Linked DNA regions of Homo sapiens: region 1 is linked to region 2. The links come from fine-mapping of genetic effects on gene expression. Tissue or cell type: hypothalamus. Region 2 holds a variant in brackets; the other region holds the start of a gene. All regions are shown on one strand. Distances are between the middles of the regions.

Region 1 (7,045 bases), 67 kb before region 2:
AGAGCCAGATTCCTAGGTTCAAATTCTGATTCTGCTACTTCATGGATTACTTATTTAACCTCTTTTAGCCTTGTTTTTCTCATCTGAACAACAGAAATGATTATAATAACCTATCTCAGGGTATTGGTGTAAAGATTAAATAAATTAATATATATAATTAATGTCTTGAATACAGTTAATCCACCATAAATAATAGTTACTATTATCTTCATTATGCATCATCATTCCCCTGGTTCTCATCATCCTTGCCATCTGTCTTTATACTAATAAATTGGGAAAGCAAAAATGATAGGAGAAGCTATTAGAAAGACAGAAGTGCTTCCGGAAATATTTTTAACAAGTAAGTCACAAATACAAACAAAAATAGATCTATTTCTTTGTTTTCAGTTTTAAAGCATAGAATAACTCAAGCACATCGAATTTGTAGAAAGAATATCAAAATAAATCTAAGAAACTTTGATCTTACTCCCACCTCTACCACTAAATGTTTTGTCTTGAGTAAGTTATTTTACTTCCTTGGACCTAAAAAGTAAAGAGGCTAGATTAACTGTTCAATCTATTTTAAATTTATTTCCAATGTTATATCTATAAACTATACAAGCTTTATATGCTATACAGAAAATTTAAAAATAAAAAGTTGTTCAATACCTGCTGTACTTCGAGCTGAATTTTCATTTAGGCTTCGCTTCATTTCCTTCAATATCAAAATCTATAATTTTCTATTCAGCATTCCAAATTTATAATATGACATTGTCCCACTAGACCTGCAAAGAAAGAAACTTATAACTCGTATTGTCTCAACTATAAAACCCAATCCTCAGCCCAGTGATTACTGAAATTATGGTTGTAAACTACTTTCAAACCTGATCACGTAAACACTTTAGGGAGTCCTTTGCTTTCTAAGAGTTTACACCATAATCCACTTTTCCAACCCTGTTCAAATTAAGTTATGACTAGGGCAACTGTAACCTTGCTTCGTAAACATATGTGCATTTTTTCACACAGTATATGTAATTTATTTCAGAATCCCGCACCCACAAAGAGAATTCTGAACCACACCTACAAAGAGGAAAATGGACCACAGCGTTGGCAAACGTACATGCTTCCAAGGCCAAGGAGGAAACACAGTATTTAGCCACCGGGAACTTCCTCCATGCCCCACTTTAAGGCATTGTGCAGGACATCTGCCTTTGCATCAGTTTGAAATGCCTGGATTATATAATATCAAAGACTAAGTCTTCCTGAGGTCAGGAGTTCAAGACCAGCCTGGCCAACATGGCAAAAGCCCATCTCTACTAAAAATACAAAATTAGCCAGGAGTGGTGGCGGGCGCCTGTAATCCCAGCTACTCGGGAGGCCGAGGCAGGAGAATCGCTTGAGCCCGAGAGGCCGAGGTTGCAGTGAGCTGAGATCGTGCCACTGCACTCCAGCCTGGGCAACAAGACCCAGACTCCATCTCAAAAAAAAAAAAAAAAAAAAAAGACTAAGTCCTCCCTTCATATCTAGAATAATTGTAATGACAAGTTTCCACTCCATTTCCACAACTTCAACAAGTGAAACAAGTTTTTCCTTAGTTTTCTTCTTTTACAATAGAATTTCTCTTGTAATTTTGCACGTTTAGCCCCTTAACACATTTCATCCCCAATCTAATACAACGAACACTTGCCCACTGCAAGAAGAGGCAAGATACAAACCCAAACCAGGTAACTTCTGTTCCAAATTCACAACCCAATGAGACAGACAGACCGACACATACACAACTAAGCAATAATGCAAGTCAGGCCGAGGTGTTAACTTTCAAATATCGTTTGTAAAAATAAAACTTGGGAAACAGGCCGGGTGCAGTGGCTCACGCCTGTAATCCCAGCACTTTGGGAGGCCGAGACGGGCGGATCACGAGATCAGGAGATCAAGACCATCCTGGCTAACAGAGGGAAACCCCGTCTCTACTAAAAAATACAAAAAAATTAGCCGGGCGTGGTGGCAGGCACCTGTGGTCCCAGCTACTCGTGAGGCTGAGGCAGGAGAATGGCATGAACTCGGGAGGCGGAGGTTGCAGTGAGCGGAGATCGTGCCGCTGCACTCCAGCCTGGGCGACAGAGCGAGACTCCGTCTCAAAAAAAAAAGAAAAAAAAACAACTTGGGAAACACGAGGTCAGGTGCTGCCTCTGTTTTGTTTCCACATCTTAGGCTTGAAGCTGGGTAGAAGAGATGGACCCTTTAGAAAATATTCCTGGTGGCCAGGTGCAGTGGCTCATGCCTGTGATCCCAGCACTTCGGGAGGCCAAGGCAAGTGGGTCACCTGAGGTCGGGAGTTCAAGACCAGCCTGACCAACAACGTGAAACCCCGTCTCTACTAAAAATACAAAAATTAGCCGGGCATGGTGGTGCGTGCCTGTAATCCCAGCTACCCTGGAGGCTGAGACAGGAGAATCACTTGAACCCGGGAGGCGGAGGTTGCAGTGAGCCGAGATCACGCCACTGCACTCCAGCCTGGGCGACAGAGCGAGACTCTAGGGAAAAAATGGAGAGAGGGAGGAAGGGAGGGAGGGAAGGGAAGGAAGGAAGGAAGGGAAAGGAAAGGAAAGGAAAATATTCTTGGCGCCATCCTAGGAGCCACAACAGGGATTCTGCCACTTTCTCCACCGGCGCAACTCACATCCTATATTTAGAGGGGCTTACGAGGGCTATTATGTTTCTCAGGATCAAACAAACAGAATAAACAACAACAAAATTTTTAAGTGTAACATTCCACCCGCGGGACCATTGATCCTGAGGGCGGGGACCCTCATTTACCCCCAATCCCAGCTCCCAAATGGACCTAAGTGGCGTTAGTAATGGGGTTGGTGGCATTGGTGTGCAAAAAGTGTGCTCAATCTGCACGCACACACACACACACCACCCACAAAAACCACGGCCTCAAATGGCGGCCTGTTTTGGCTCCTGACCGCGGTGGGAGAGAAGAGGCTCCAGTCCGAGTTGAGACGCTCTTCCAAAGGCCTCTCCTGACCCGCCCACGGAGTGGGGGCAGTTTGGTATCAACGCACAGTCTTTCCCTTCTAGGCCCTCCTGCCAACACGACACACAACTTTCGCCCTCAGTTTCCCTCGCCTCCGTCAACCGTCGTCCAGGCGGCCCCGTCAGCAACCGCCGCCCTTCCCGCCCGCGAAGAAAGCGCGGGAATCAGGCTGTTCGCAGGCGCCGTGGACCGCGCAGGCGCAGTGGCCGCCACCTCGGCGCGATGGCATCTTCGCTGCCTGCCTGGCCGCCCTTGGCCGGGCGCGATGACGTTAACGCTCTTCCTTGGCGTTCTCACACTGTGGACCCAGGGATGGCTCCAGCTCCTTAGAGTTTTGCCCAGAGAGGAAAGGAGACTGTCCTGTGACTGGAGAGACAGAGGCAGATCTCCTGCCCAACCGGCCTCAGCCCCACCATCGTCTAAAAAGTGTGCCCCACTTCCCCTCACCCCCTGGCCCTTAGGGTCCAGACATCCGTTTGTTAGATGCTGGTGGCCACCCAGAGTGTGCCCAGAGATTGACTCGAAGGCCACCCGAGGTGTCTGGCTCAATTTCTGGGTCGGATCAGGGTCAGGGAATCTGAGTCCCCGGGAGGCTGGGGACAGAGCTGAAGCCCAGGTTCAGATGGCGGCCATGGAAGGCGGAGAGCCGTCAGCGAGGCAGCGCCGGGGCTGCGGGAGCTTGCGGGAGGGAAGCGCCCGTGAGCCGCAGAGACGCTCTGCAGGGGAAGCCGCGTGGTGTGCGACCCTGGGCGTTGAGCTCCAGGCTTCCTGGCAAAGAGGACTGTGGATTCCTGGCCCTGTGACCTTGGGCAAGTTACTTACTGAACACCCTCTGGACCTACCAGTAAAAGAACAATAACAACAATCGCCCTAAAAATACTAGAAGATGAAATAGACAATCCTGGCACACAGTAAATGCCCAGTAACTGTTAGCCCTTATTTAATTTGAGTAACAGTAGCTGCCATTTATCCGGAACTTACTATGGGCCAGGTAGTGGATTCTAGAGCTGTCTGAGTTCAAAGCCCATGTTTTGTTGTTACCGTATCTTCTAACCATTTGAAGACTGGGATAGGGAAGGGCTTAGAGATGAAAGGAAGATTGTTAGTAAAGGCCTAGGCCTATAAGACCACAGACATTTTAGTAGTTGCTTTAAAACTATCTCAAGTAAAGAAGAGTGTTAGAAAATAATATTAGATGTAGACTGAGACCAGATAATAGCAGACCTTGAATGCCAGAGTAAGGAACAGCTTTCAAGGAATAGGGCCATCTTTTATTTTGGGAAGAAGAAGACTTGAACAATAAAAATAAAACTTGTTATTTATCATGGTTCCAGAGAGGAGTTACCCAAAACATGAATAGAAGCTTCAGGGAAGCAGATTTTGACTTGATATCTACATACGGATGTGCATACATTTACAACACACACCCACCCACCCCAAAAATAGATTTTTCATTAAAAAAAAAAAAAAAAAACCACCTTAAGCCGATTACTTCTGTAGGGACTGCAGACATGAGCAATATAGAATATTTGCTAGCAGTTTATAAACTTAATCTGTTTTATACTTGTCTTTTTCTGCTTATTTATTTCCACCTGGAAAGTTGGTCAGGATGGATCACAGGGAAGGAGAAAACTAAAGTAGTAAAAGTAGTTTGATTACATAACTACTGAACATCACATTATGTATGAGACATCTTATGTATAATATTTAACAAAAAACCCTTCTTATCCCCCAGTCATACCATTTGGGAAACAACCCACCTTAAATTTGTCTCCTACAAAATTTCTGGCAGGGATCTACTGGACAGCCATGACTGTGAAGTAAAACTCTGCTCTCCTTTTGTTTTGTTTTGTTTTGTTTTTGAGACGGAGTTTCGCTCTTGTTCCCCAGGTTGGAGTGCAATGGCACAATCTCAGCTCACTGCAACCTCCGCCTTCTAGGTTCAAGTGATTCTCCTGCCTCAGCCTCCTGAGTAACTAGGATTACAGGCACCCGCCACCACGCCCAGGTAATTTTGTATTTTTAGTAGAGACGGGGTTTCACCATGTTGGCCAGGATGGTCTCGAACTCCTGACCTTAGGTGATCCGCCCACCTCGGCCTCCCAAAGTGCTGGGATTACAAGCATGAGACCACACCTGGCATCCTTTTGTTTTAAACTACATTATTTTATTAATACATCAGGCAACTCTATCCCACAAAACATTTGTAATGCTGGAAGTTATGCTTACTCTTTTAAGTACTTCAGAATATTATATATTCAACTTAATAATGAGATAGTGACAATTCGAAAGGGTTTCACTTCGTATACTATCAGTTCGCTGAGAACTAATAAAAAAGTGTGGTTTTTTGGGTCATCCCAAAAATCAAGTACACTTTGGGAAACAGGGAGTTAAAAATCTTTCGGAAGTTAACTTGGTATAAGAGTATGAAAAGCCTCTGTTGCTCTACTTCTGAGGAAATGCTCTCCTTTTTCCTAATAAAGCTTTCCACAGAAGACAAACTCTGTACACAAAAAACAAGGTAAGTATGGGAAATAATTGCTGCAATTCATTAACTCTCAAAAAAGTTATTCATTTTGACATGTAAGAGAAACTTTATTTATGAATGTGAAATGTGCTTCAAAGTGCTGATCTGTTAAAATTCCATAAAACAAGCTTCAAAATGCAAGTCATTTGTGCCAGCTACGAGTAAATAACTGAAGCAGCATTTCCAGAGAGACTAGGGCAAAGGACAGAACAAACTACAAATCAGCAGAAAAGAAACCAAGCATAGTAGAGTGTTAATAATTCACCATGGTTACTGCTCTTAAAACCAAAGCAACTAAACAACTGTCATCTGTTTACTTTTACGTGTGTTTTCATCATCTCTACACCGTCTGAAGTGTTCAGTGTACATGGATGTGGACAGACAGTCAAAGCCTACAGGAGCTTTTTTTTTCTATTAGAACAGTCATTTTAATGCATAGATTTGATGTGGTTATTTTGCTTTCTCTATCTCTGCATTATAAGCTCTTAAAGGAAGAACATTCAGTGGGTTTATTAAATATTAGGAAGCATTCATATTTTATTTTTCCACCATGTATTTGGTTTGTATGCATGTTTGTTTCCTGAGCACACTGTAATGGCTGTTTATGTGAATTCTGAAAGAGCAAAACTAGAACTGTGAAGAAGACCAAAAATAACAGAGAGGCACCCTATTGTCCTGTGAAAAACACTAGACTTGGGATGAGAAACATGGGTCTCAGGCCTAGGTTCTCCTACATCCCTGCAGAACCTTAACTGAGTTACTTAACCTCTCTTTCGTTTACCCCTGCAGTGGGGATGTCAACACCTAACCCACCCTATCGTATAAAATTAATGTATGAATAAACTGAGTGAAAGGACATTATAAATTAAACTCTGCAATTGTAATAAATTACTCTTATTGTACCCTCTATCAAACAACCTGGCGTTACTAGTACATGGTATTCCCAGTACTTGAACATATGTGACTTTCTGGGTGACTGAGCATGAAATCAAATCAGATTTGGCTCAGAGTCATTTCTCCAAAGGGATGTAATCATCTTAGTATTCTGGAAAATTTCCCCTAATAAGACCCCTTTTTGAGTAACACAGTCCAGTGGAGAGTCCCCGCTGACAGTGAATAAGGCTGTGTCTATGTAAGTTCACATGATGTGGTTAGCACATGCAGTGTGTCCCAAGACATTTTCAGGCATCACAAAAACTTGAAAAGTACTAACAGTTGTCTTTCCTTTGGTATTTAGGCAAAAAATGAGGAAGATTCATAAGTAAGTTAACACAGAATTACCAAAAACCTCATGAGAAAGAAATGAAGGGATGTTTCAGGGTAGCTTTTCGAGTCCCAAGTGATCATTGATTTGGCCCTTCTGTTTCTGATTGTGAAAAAGCATTCTGAAAGAATGGGCGCCGGTTCAAGAGGAGGTCTCTGAGGGTCAGCCTTTGGCTGTTTATAGAGGTGAGATTCAAATGCCCTCAGATCATGAAAAGTGCTTGAACTCATTTCAG
Region 2 (10,683 bases):
CAGCATGAGAATCGCTTGAACCCAGGAGGCAGAGGCTGCAGTGAGCCAGATGGCACCACTGCACTCCAGCAGCCTGGGCAACAGAGTGAGACTCCATTAAAAAAATAAAAATAAAAAAAATAACACCCAGAAGAGAAAACAGATGGGTGATCATCAGTCAGGCAAGACTGGGTGGCAGGAGGGGTCTCCTCTGCAACAAAGTTACACAGAGAAATTTTTGTGTGTGACGGAGCCATTTGTTCCCTGTTCTGACTGCAGTGGTGGTGAACCAACTCGACGCACTGTGAAAATGAACAGAACTGTCCTCTAACACGGGTGACTTTCACTATATCTAAATTATGCATTTCAATTTTTTTTTTTTTTCCTAGAGCATCCTAACCCCAATTGCTTCTGGACTCTGTGACTTGTGAGGCAGGGGAGTTCTGCCCTCTCACTCTCGACTCCCTGTCTGCAGTCCTGAGATGCACTGGGCCCTGGCACAGAGGTCAGAGCTGGAGGCCAGGACACCTAAGTCAATGCCCTGCTACCCTGGGGCAAGTCCTTTCCCTTCACAGAGCCATCTCCTCGCCTGTAAAATGGGGCTGCCTCCTCAGCCTCCCTCCCAGGTCTCTGTTCCCTCAGAGAGCTACCCAGGACAATGCTTCTAAGACCACCAGGTGACACCACCGGAACATGGACTCCTCCCCCAACACCTCCTCCCAGCCCCTCCTTCTCTGGTCCACCCTGGTGTCCTGCTCAGATGGACATGCCCAGCCTCCTCCCCTCCTGCCCCTCTGGGGCACCAGAGCTTCTTAAGGCAGGGACAGTGTGGGTGGAGCTCAAAGCGGGGTGGCCCCTCCCTTCCTCCCTCCTTCCTTCCTTTCTCTCCCTCCGCCCTCCTTCCTCCTCCCTTCCTCCCTCTCCCTCCTCCTTCTCCCTTCTGTCTCCTGCCTCCCTCCTCCCTCCCTCCCCCTCCTTACTCCTCCTCCCTCTCCCTCCTCCCTCCTCCCTTCCTCCCTCCTTCCTGCTTCCCTCTTCCTTTCTCCCTCCTCCCTTCCTTCCTCTCCCTCCTCCCTTCCTTCCTCCCTCATCCTTCCTGCTTCCTTCCTCCCTCCTCCCTCTCCCTCCTCTCTCCTTCCTGTTTCCCCCTCCCTTCCTCCCTCTCCCTCCTCACTTCCTTCCTCCTTCCCTCTTTCTTCCCCCCTCCTCCCTTCTTCCCTCCTTCCCCTTCCCTCCCTTCCTCTCCCGTCTCCCTCCTCCCTCCTCCCAGACTCCGCACCGGGCGGGGGCGGCACCCACCGAAGTAGAAGCCTTCGTGTTGGTACTTGGGGTTGAAGAAGGCCCCCTTGGCGTGCGCGTTGACGTCGGCGCCGGCGGCGATGAGCAGGGCTGCGATGTCCCCCTGCCGCCGCTCGATGGCGATGTTCAGCGCCGTCTGCCCTGCGGAGCGGGCGGGGACGCGCGGGAGCCTCAGCGCCGGGCACAGGGGCCTCTTGCCCACCCGCTCTGGCCTCCATACCCTCCCCGAACCCACGGGGAGATCAGAACCCTGGTCTGTGTCGCCAGCTACCAGGAATCCCAGCTTTGTTCTTTGCTTCCTTCATGCCTGCGCGGACCCAAGAAATGTTTGTGGAGCGCCTGCTCCGGGCTCCGGCCCCAGGCGCTGGGGGTCAGTGGGTGCCCAAGACGCAATCTCGATTATTTTCCTCAAGAAGCCCGCAGTGTCACTGAGAACGAGGTGCTACGATTCAGAGGGGTGCAGGAGCTGCGGTACCCAGAGCAAGGGCCCTTCACAGCCAGAGAGCGTCAGGGGGCTTCCCAGAGCTCTCTAACCTGGGACCTCAGAAGTTTAGCGAGGCGGTGTGGGGCCAGCTCATCAGCCAGGGCAAGAGGGCAGAGCTTGTGCTAAGGGCCAGAGTCACAGACGGCCTTGAATTAGGAAACTGGCAGGACGAGAATGTAGGGCTCGGTGCATGGGTGTTTTCAGACCTCTCTGGCTGCAAAAGTGGAGGATGCGTTAGAAGCAGCCGAGACCAGTGAAGGAAATGATGAGGCCTGTAATCCCAGCACACTGGGAGGCCAAAGCAGGTGGATCACCTGAGGTCAGGAGTTCGAGAGCAGCCTGACCAACATGGTGAAACATGGTCTGTACTAAAAATACAAAATTAGCCGGCCGTGGGGGCGCATGCCTGTAATCCCAGCTACTTGGGAGGCTGAGGCAGGAGAATCGCTTGAACCCAGGAGGCAGAGGTTGCAGTGAGCCGAGATTGGTCCATTGCACTCCAGCCTGGGCAAGAAGAGTGAAACTCCATCTCAAAAAACAAACAAACAAACAAAAAAATGATGAGGCCTGGACTAAGGGGAGTTGGAGGGCACATGAAGGGTGGAGAAAGGAGGAAGCCCAAAGACCCTCTGGAGAAAGAGCCTTCAGGATGCCCGGCTGGGAAGAAGGGTGTCTCAGGTAAGATCTAGGTATTCAGCCCTGGCGGTGGGTGAATGATACGCTGGTGACACAGCAAGAGGAAAGAAGGGTAGCGGGAGAGACACTAAGCCTGCTGGAGACCAGAGAACTTCCAGATGGAAGGGACCAGAAGGCTGGAGTGGGGGAAGGGTCTCGAAATGCACCAACAGAAACAGCAGTTTCCAAAGAGCTGCCGCTGTGTCATAAACAAACATAGTCTTGGTGGATTAAAGAACCAAGCTTTAAGACACATTAGAAAGTTTGTTTATAGCTAACCTTTTGGTAGGGAAGACCTTCTTAAGCAGGATCCAAAAGGCAGAAACCATAAAGAAAAGGCTGACATATTTGCTTACATAAAGGTTTTTGGTTTTGGGGGTTTTTGGTTTTTTGTTTGTTTGTTTGTATGTTTGACATAGGATCTTGCTGTGTCACCCAGGCTGGAGTGCAGTGGCGTGAGCATAGCTCACTGCAACCTTGAACTCCTGGGCTCAAACGATCCTCCTGTCTCAGCCCCCCAAAAGCTAGACTTTCATATTTGGCATAAGAAATGCTCTAAGACATACAGTTAATCAAACAAAGCAACTTGTAGAATACAGACGTGATGGTCCTATTTTATGTTAGATAAGTAAATAAAACTATTTCTGTGTACATATATACACACACACGTGTGGACTACAGGCCTGCACCACCACTCCCGGCTTATTTTTAAAATTTTTTGTAGAGACAGGATCTTGCTGTGTTGCCCAGGCTGGTCTTGAATTCCTGGGCTCAAGCAATCCCCCTACCTCGGAGATTTCTGTATTTCCGAATGCATCCTAATGAAAGTTAAAGACAAGTGATAGGCTGGGGAAAATATTTGAGATATATAAAAAGGCAATGTGTTTTAGGGCCGGGCGCGGTAGCTCACACCTGTAATCCCAGCACTTTGGGAAGCCGAGGCGGGTGGATCACTTGAGGTCAGGAGTTCGAGACCAGCCTGGCCCACATGGAGAAACCCCATCTCTACTGAAAATACAAAAAAATTAGCCAAGTGTGGTGGCGGGCACCTGTAGTCCCAGCTACTCAGGAGGTTGAAGCAGGAGAATCACTTGAACTCAGGAGGCAGAGATCGCGCCACTGTACTCCAGCCTGGGCTAGAGAGCAAGACTCTGTCTTTTTAAAAAAAAAAAAAAAAAAAAGGCATGCCAGGCACGGTGGCTCACACCTGTAATCCCAGCACTTTGGGAGGCTGAGGCGGGCAGATCACGAGGTCAGGAGATCGAGACCATCCTGGCTAACCTGGTGAAACTCTGTCTCTACTAAAAATACAAAAAATTAGGCGGGCGTGATGGTGAGTGCCTGTAGTCCCAGCTACTCGGGAGGCTGAGGCAGGAGAATGGTGTGAACCCGGGAGGTGGAGCTTGCAGTGAGCATGCCACTGCACTCCAGCCTGGGCAATAGAGCAAGACCCCGTCTCAAAAAAAAAATAGAAAGGCATTGTGTTTTTAAAAGTCTATAATATATTACAAGCGCCTATGAATCAATAGAAAGACAAACAGTCTAAAAGAAAACTGAGAAAAGATTATAAACAAGCACCTCACAGAGGAGAAAATACACACAGTGAATAAACAAAGTGAAAGATGTTTGGAATCACTGGTGGTCAGGAAAATGAAAATTAGAACCTAAAGAGTTAACCCTTTTCACCCACCAGACTGGAAAAGAACAAAAAAAAAAAAAAAAGGATAATTTGCAGTGTTAGTGATAAGTAGGAGAATGAGTATTTCTGTACACCGTTGTGGGGAGAGAGTAAATGAGTATCTTTTAGAGACAAATTTGGCAATAACTATTATAACTTTATTTTATTTATTTAAAAAAAAATTTTTTTTTTTGAGATGGAGTCTCCCTCTGTTGCCCAGGCTGGAGTGCAGTGGCGCGATCTCGGCTCACTGCAACCTCCGCCTCCCAGGTTCAAGTGATCCTCCTGCCCCAGCCTCCCAAGTAGCTGGGATTACAAGCGTGCCCCACCACGCCCTACTAGTTTTTGTATTTTTAGTAGAGATGGGTTTTCACCATGTTGGCTAGGCTGGTCTGGAACTCCTGACCTCAAGTGATCCACCTGCCTTGGCCTCCCAAAGTGCTGGGATTACAGGCATGAGCCACTGCGCCTGGCCACTATTATAACTTTAAATATGCATGCGGTTGAACCCAGATATTCCAATTCAAAATATTTTCTGAAACATATGTGCACCTGTGCACAGGGTCATAGACAAGATCGTGCACTGTGACATTGTCACAACACAGCTGGAAACACCTGACTGTCTGTCAGTGGGGGAGTGGTGAAATTAGCCAAGGTGCAGCCGCAATTGCAGACGAATCTGGTGAAAAGAAGCTAGACTTTCATATTTTGGCATAAGAAGTGCTCCAAGACATATGGTTAATAGTTAATCAAAAAAACCAACTTGTAGAATACAGACAGTATGATAATATTTTATGTTAAATAAATAAAACTTTTTCTGTGTGCACATATACACACACAAATGTCAAAGGCCTAGAAAACTCCACAAAGTATATGGGTAAAGGACTTAAAAAAAAAAAAAGTATGTAAAATGCTGGGCTGCTTTACAATGAAACTCTATTCATGTGACGTGGATGTTGTTAGGCTGGGTGCGGTGGCTCACGCCTATAATCCCATCATTGAGAGGCAGAGGCGGGAGGATTGCTTGAGCCCCGGAGTTACAGACCAGCCTGGGCAACATGGTGAAACCCTATCCCTGCAACAAA[T/C]AGAAAAATTAGCTGGGCGGGGTGGCACGCATCTATAGTCCCAGCTACTCGGGAGGCTGAGGTGGGAAAATTACCTGAGCCCAGGGAGGTCAAGGCTGCAGCGAGTCGTGGTCGCGCCACTGCACTCCAGCCTGCCCAACAGAGTGAGAACCTGTCTCAAAAACAATAATAAAATAAAATAAAGTAAAATAATAAAAAGAAACTGTTATATTGAATCTGATGATGGATGTGTAGAGGTTTATTATTCTAATATCTTAACTTCATGTTTAAAATTTTTATAATAAAAATGTCTTAATTGAAGAATTGCTTAAAAAAGTAAAACTCTGAAGGCCTCTGATAAAATGCTTTAAAATGATATGAATAAAGTTGTGATTGGTTCCTCTTAGCAGCATAGGGAGGAAATATTCGCCCTTGCCCAGTGGGGAAACTGAGGCTCAGAGAGGTGAGGCAGTTGCCTGTAGTCCCAGCTACTTGGGATGCTGAGGCAGGAGAATCACCTGAACCCGGGAGGCAGAGGTTGTGCCACTGCACTCCAGCCTGGTGACACAGCGGAACTCCATCTCAAAAAATAAATAAATAAATAAATAAATAAATAAATAAACAAAGTCATTGCTCTAAATAAGGTTATTTTAGATACAAAAAAATGCTATGAAAATAAATGAAGATAGGGTGACAGAAAGTGACTGGGGAAGGGAAACTTTAGAGTGGACAATCAGAGTGGTCACCTTGGGTCCTGCCCAGAGTGTGGAAGAATGCTACTCTGCTGGTCCTGGAGCCCCTCTGCTCCGGGTGGAGGAAATGCTAAGAGGAAGGAAGGCACCAGCGGATGGGTCAGAACGGTGGTGGGGTTGGTTTCCAGGAAGACAAGAATAAATAGCTCCTCCCACCATTCAGAGAAAGAGGAGGTGCCCACAGCCTCCCAGACCTCCTCGCCCCAGCAAGAGGCAGATTCATGAAAGGAGAGGGAAAGGGGAGGCTAAGAACAGGGAGAGGTAAGGATCTGTGACCGGGACAGCAAAGTCTTCACAGAAACACTAACAACCTTCTTTCATTCACTCATCCAAAAAATATGTACTAAGCGTCTCTTAGGTGAGACCCTAAGGGTACTGGGAAATGAACTGTAAGCAACAGACTTCATCCCTGCCCTCAAGGGAAACATGTTGCTAGCAAAGGGTAGTTCGTAAGTCCTACAATACTGACAAGAAGAAAGGAGGATACAAAGGGGACTGAAAAGGGAAAATTAGGACAAGCAAGCTTGAGGCACTGGCCTGAACCTCCCTGTCTGCAGGACTACTGTCAACTCCTTAGAGACAGGCTGAGAATGTGATATGGTTCATCCAGTTTCTCTCTTTGCATTGGCTACCAGGGAGCTCAGTGAGCAGTTTAGCACTCAGTTGCAACAGTCTTCCCTAGGTTTCCTCTCCTCCACTCCATATCTTCTAGTTTGTCACAATCCTTGACTTCTTCTTATATATAACAAAAATGCTTTTGAAAGTCTGCAGAGTTCAAATAATAAATCACAATTACTTTCTCCCATGAGAAGGGTTAAAGGCCAAAGCTAAACTCCCACCTGGAAAAACCTAAATTGTGGCAGGGCGTGGTGGCTCACGCCTGGAATCCCAGCACTTTGGGAGGTGAAGGCAGGTGGATCACCTGAGGTTGGGAGTTTGAGACCAGCCTGGCCAAAATGGTGAAACCCCGTCTCTACTAAAAATCCAAAAAAATTAGCCAGGCATGGTGGCAGGTGCCTGTAATCCCAGTTACTTGGGAGGCTGAGGCAGGAGAATCGCTTGAACCTGGGAGGCAGAGGTTGCAGTGAGCCAAGATCGCGCCACTGCACTCCAGCCTAGGCAACAGAGCGAGACTCCATGTCAAAAAACAAAAACAAAAAAGCTCAAACATCTAGTGCCCCCAGCATATCAGCAAGACGGCATCCAATTATAATTGAGTCAATCGCTTTTGCCACGAGCACCTCATAAGACCGTAAAGCGCTGTTGACTGACTCCAAAACTCAAATAAAGACACATCTTACTGATTTTCCCCTGTGGATTTCCTGGGAGGGAGCCACTCTCCCAAATTTGCTCTCCCAGCATCCTCTCTGGCCCACTTACAAAGAAATCCACAAAACTGAGACCCAAATGGGGACAGTTAATGATGATGATGATGATGACAACAGTCGACTTTTGGTGGCCCCTGCCCGGCTCTCTTGCCTCACTTCCAGCCTTCTTTTCATTGCTCAACCATGCCAAGCTCAATCCCATCTTGGGGCTTTCGCCCTGATCCTTCTCATCATGTCGGCCTCAGGCCAAAGATGACCACTCTGACTGTCCACTCTAAAGTTGCCCTCCCCCAGTCACTTTCTGTCACACTATCTTCATTTATTTTCGTAATATTTTAAATCTAAAATTATCTTATTTAGAGCAGTGACTTTCTTTCTTTTCTTTGTTTCTTTTTCTTTCTGTCTTTACTTATTTATTTATTTTGAGATGGAGTCCCGCTCTGTCACTAGGCTGGAGTGCAATGGCGATCTCGGCTCACTGCAACCTCCGCCTCCTGGGTTCAGGTGATTCTCCTGCCTCAGCCTCCCAAGTAGCTGGGATTACAGGCACCTGCCACCATGCCCGGCTGATTTTTGTATTTTTAGTAGAGACGGGGTTTCACCATGTTGGTCAGGCTGGTCTTGAACTCCGGACCTCAGGTGATCCACCCGCCTCAGCCTCCCAAAGTGCTGGGATTCCAGGCGTGAGCCACCACGCCCGGCCTTAGAGCAGTGGCTTTAACCTGTCTTGTTCACCAGTGCATGCCCATGCCAAAAACAATGCCTGGCATGGAACCAGTGCTCAAAATTATTTGCAGAATGAAGGAAGAAAGAGAGGGTTGCCTGAAGCATCCCTGGTACCATGCTACATGCTTGGGGCTCCTCAATGGCAGCAGTGCCTCCACGTGGCCTGGCCAGCAGTGGCCCTGTGGCCCCATACCCCACCCTCAGAGACTCCTGTCTGCACAGCCCCTCTGCAGGCAGGATACCTTCATAGGCCTCCTCTGTGTACTCGGCGTTGATGAACCTGCCCAGGATGTCGTTCTCTTCAGCAAAGGCAAGCAGGATCCGCACTATCTCCTTGGTGTTGGGGTTGATGTTTAACAAGGCCTTCATCAGGCAGGTCTTCCCCGTGTCGGAGGCCGTCAGCTTGTGCATGAGGAAGTCTGCAGGCAGGGCCATGGGTGGAGTTACAGGAGGGCCCCGGCTGCCCTTGGCCCTCCCAGCCCAGAGGGTGTGGTTGCTGCAGCCGCAGACCCCAAGCCCCTGCTCCACATCTCCACTCCCAGACCTTACACTTGGCCGCTCTCCTCCCTCTCCAGCTGTTTCTCCTCCGTCTCCTATGCTGGCTCCTTGCTCTCTGTGGCCCATGGGTGACGTATCTGAGGCCTTTTGCTCTTTGCCCACTGTATGGCTTCCCGCTGTCCACCCCCCTGCTGCCACCCTGGAATCTGTCTCCAGCCTGCCCCCTCCTCGTGGCCTGCAAATAAAGCTCATGGCCTCCCCATCAACCTGATACTGCACTGGTCCCCGAGACACCCAGGGCTCCACCAGCCACCAAGCTACCCAAGTCTAAATGGCACCATGCTGGACCCCCCGTCCCTCACTCCCCAGGTCCTCAAATCCTGCCAATGCTACTGGCCGAGGAGCTGCTCAGAACCGTTCCCTTCTCAAGCCCTGCTTCAGGGTCCCAGCCCTGCCTGAACAGTGGCCTTCTCCAGCTTCACCCCCATCTTCCACACAGTAGTCAGACCCGACTCTCACCTGCCCAAACCCTTCTGTGGTTCCCCATTCTCCTCGGAGTCAAGTTCAAAGTCCCTAGCCAGAATTCAAGGCCCCTCACACTCCAGCCTCATGGGTTGGTGAGGGGAGGGGAAAATGGGCACCAGAAGCCAAGCAGGGCCCCCAGCCCTGCACCCTCTGCCAGGCTCAGACACTCACCAGGCACATCCTCATCATGGCGCCGCCTGCAAAGCTCCTGCAGCTCCACCAGCAACTCTACCAACTCCTCCACGCAGCCCTCAGACACGGCTGCAAAGATGCGCTTCTTCAGCCGCCTCTTTTTCCTCCTCTGCTCTTCCTTGGCCAGCTGTGCACTGAAGCCAGAAAATGTTTCCAACTCAACACACACATCCTCTCAAGCTCAATCTCTCCTTTTCCCCGCCAGAGCTGCCTACGGGGCGCTGCAGCTGCCGCCAACATCTCCCATGCCTGTCACAATGCCTGCAAACTCCTGGGCTCTGTGTGGACCCATCAGGCTCCCCTTGTAATCCATATGCAATCACATTTTGTCAAAATACCTACATTTGGATGCATGAAGTAATGATCAGGAAGGATCTATGCCTATTAAAGACATTACCTTGAAAATATAAGATTTCATATTTTATGTTGTTTGAACTTTTAAAATCTATCCTTCCCTGTCCTCCCACTCCAGATAAGCAACCATGGTAACGCGTTGATGTCTCCTTTTGTTTCTTTTTTCTTTTTTTTATTTGAGACAGAGTCTTGCTCTGTCACCCAGGCTGGAGTACAGTGACACAATCTCAGCTCACTACAACCTCCACCTCCAGGGTGCAAGCAATTCTCCTGCCTCAGCCTCCTCAGTAGCTGGGATTACAGGCATGCGCCACCACGCCCGGCTAAGTTTTGTATTTTTAGTAGAGACGGGGTTTCACCATGTTGGTCAGGCTTGTCTTGAACTCCTGACCTCGTGATCCTCCTGCCGCAGCCTCCCAAAGTGCTGGGATGACAGGTATGAGCCCTGCACCTGGCTATGTATTTTTAGTTCACATAAATGGTGTCGTGCTACAGTTCTTTTTCCACTGCATCCTGCTGTTTGAATGTTTCATAACAAATGGGTTTTATAGAATTCAATACTCCACTCCTTCCCCGTAAACGTCCTACATGCCATGGACCCATGACTCCACTTGTCCCAATCCCCAGGAATGGTGGATTCTTTCTCCTTCCTGCAGGGCCCCGGATCCTGTCTCTCTGGCACCCCCAGCCTGGGTGGGCACAGTGGGTGGAGGGGGAGGGGCAGACTTACCTGGGGCTGTTGGGATTGGATGGGGTCTCTGTCACATCATCCTGAGGAGACTGGGGGGAGTCCATGTCATCACAGTTACCAGAGATGCTGGAGGTGTTGGCAGGGGGAACAGAGAGGGTTTTAAAGTTTTAAAATGGGCCGGGTGAGGTGGCTCATGCATGTAATCCCAGCACTTTGGGAGGCCGAGGCAGGTGGATCACTTGAGGTCAGGAGTTCGAGACCAGCCTGGCCAACATGGTGAAACTAAACTGTCTCTACTAAATTGTCTCTACTAAAAATACAACAACTAGCCAGGCGTGGTGGCATGTGCCTGTAATCCCAGCTACTTGGGAGGCTGAGGCAGGAGAATCGCTTAAACCTGGGAGGTGGAGGCTGCAGTGAGCTGAGATTGGGCCACTG

Which allele goes with the higher level. Positions count from the first base shown, and alleles are read on the strand shown. Sizes are in standard deviations (SD) of each study's normalised expression.
In carriers of allele C in region 2, the expression in hypothalamus of the gene that starts at base 3,185 in region 1 tends to be higher than with T alone (moderate effect, 0.58 SD a copy in GTEx).

What was found. PIP is the estimated chance that this variant, and not a neighbour inherited with it, causes the effect.
Region 1: it holds the start of SPATA22, and the variant in region 2 is the best candidate, but not a certain one, in a credible set for the expression of SPATA22 in hypothalamus (GTEx, PIP 0.68).

The regions. Positions count from the first base shown.
Region 1 is chr17:3,468,635-3,475,679 of GRCh38, forward strand. It overlaps SPATA22 (spermatogenesis associated 22), which reads right to left and starts at 3,185. Exons shown (of 9, transcript NM_001170698.2): 1 at 3,048-3,185; 2 at 649-764. The coding sequence starts at 691. It also overlaps a transcript of ASPA not described here.
Region 2 is chr17:3,534,295-3,544,977 of GRCh38, forward strand. It overlaps TRPV3 (transient receptor potential cation channel subfamily V member 3), which reads right to left. Exons shown (of 18, transcript NM_145068.4): 4 at 10,285-10,371; 5 at 9,180-9,334; 6 at 8,228-8,404; 7 at 1,279-1,419. Among named protein-coding and RNA genes, the nearest start is that of TRPV3, 18 kb to the right of the region's middle. RefSeq lists a silencer at 1,455-1,504. The variant T/C (reference allele first, on the strand shown) is at 5,201.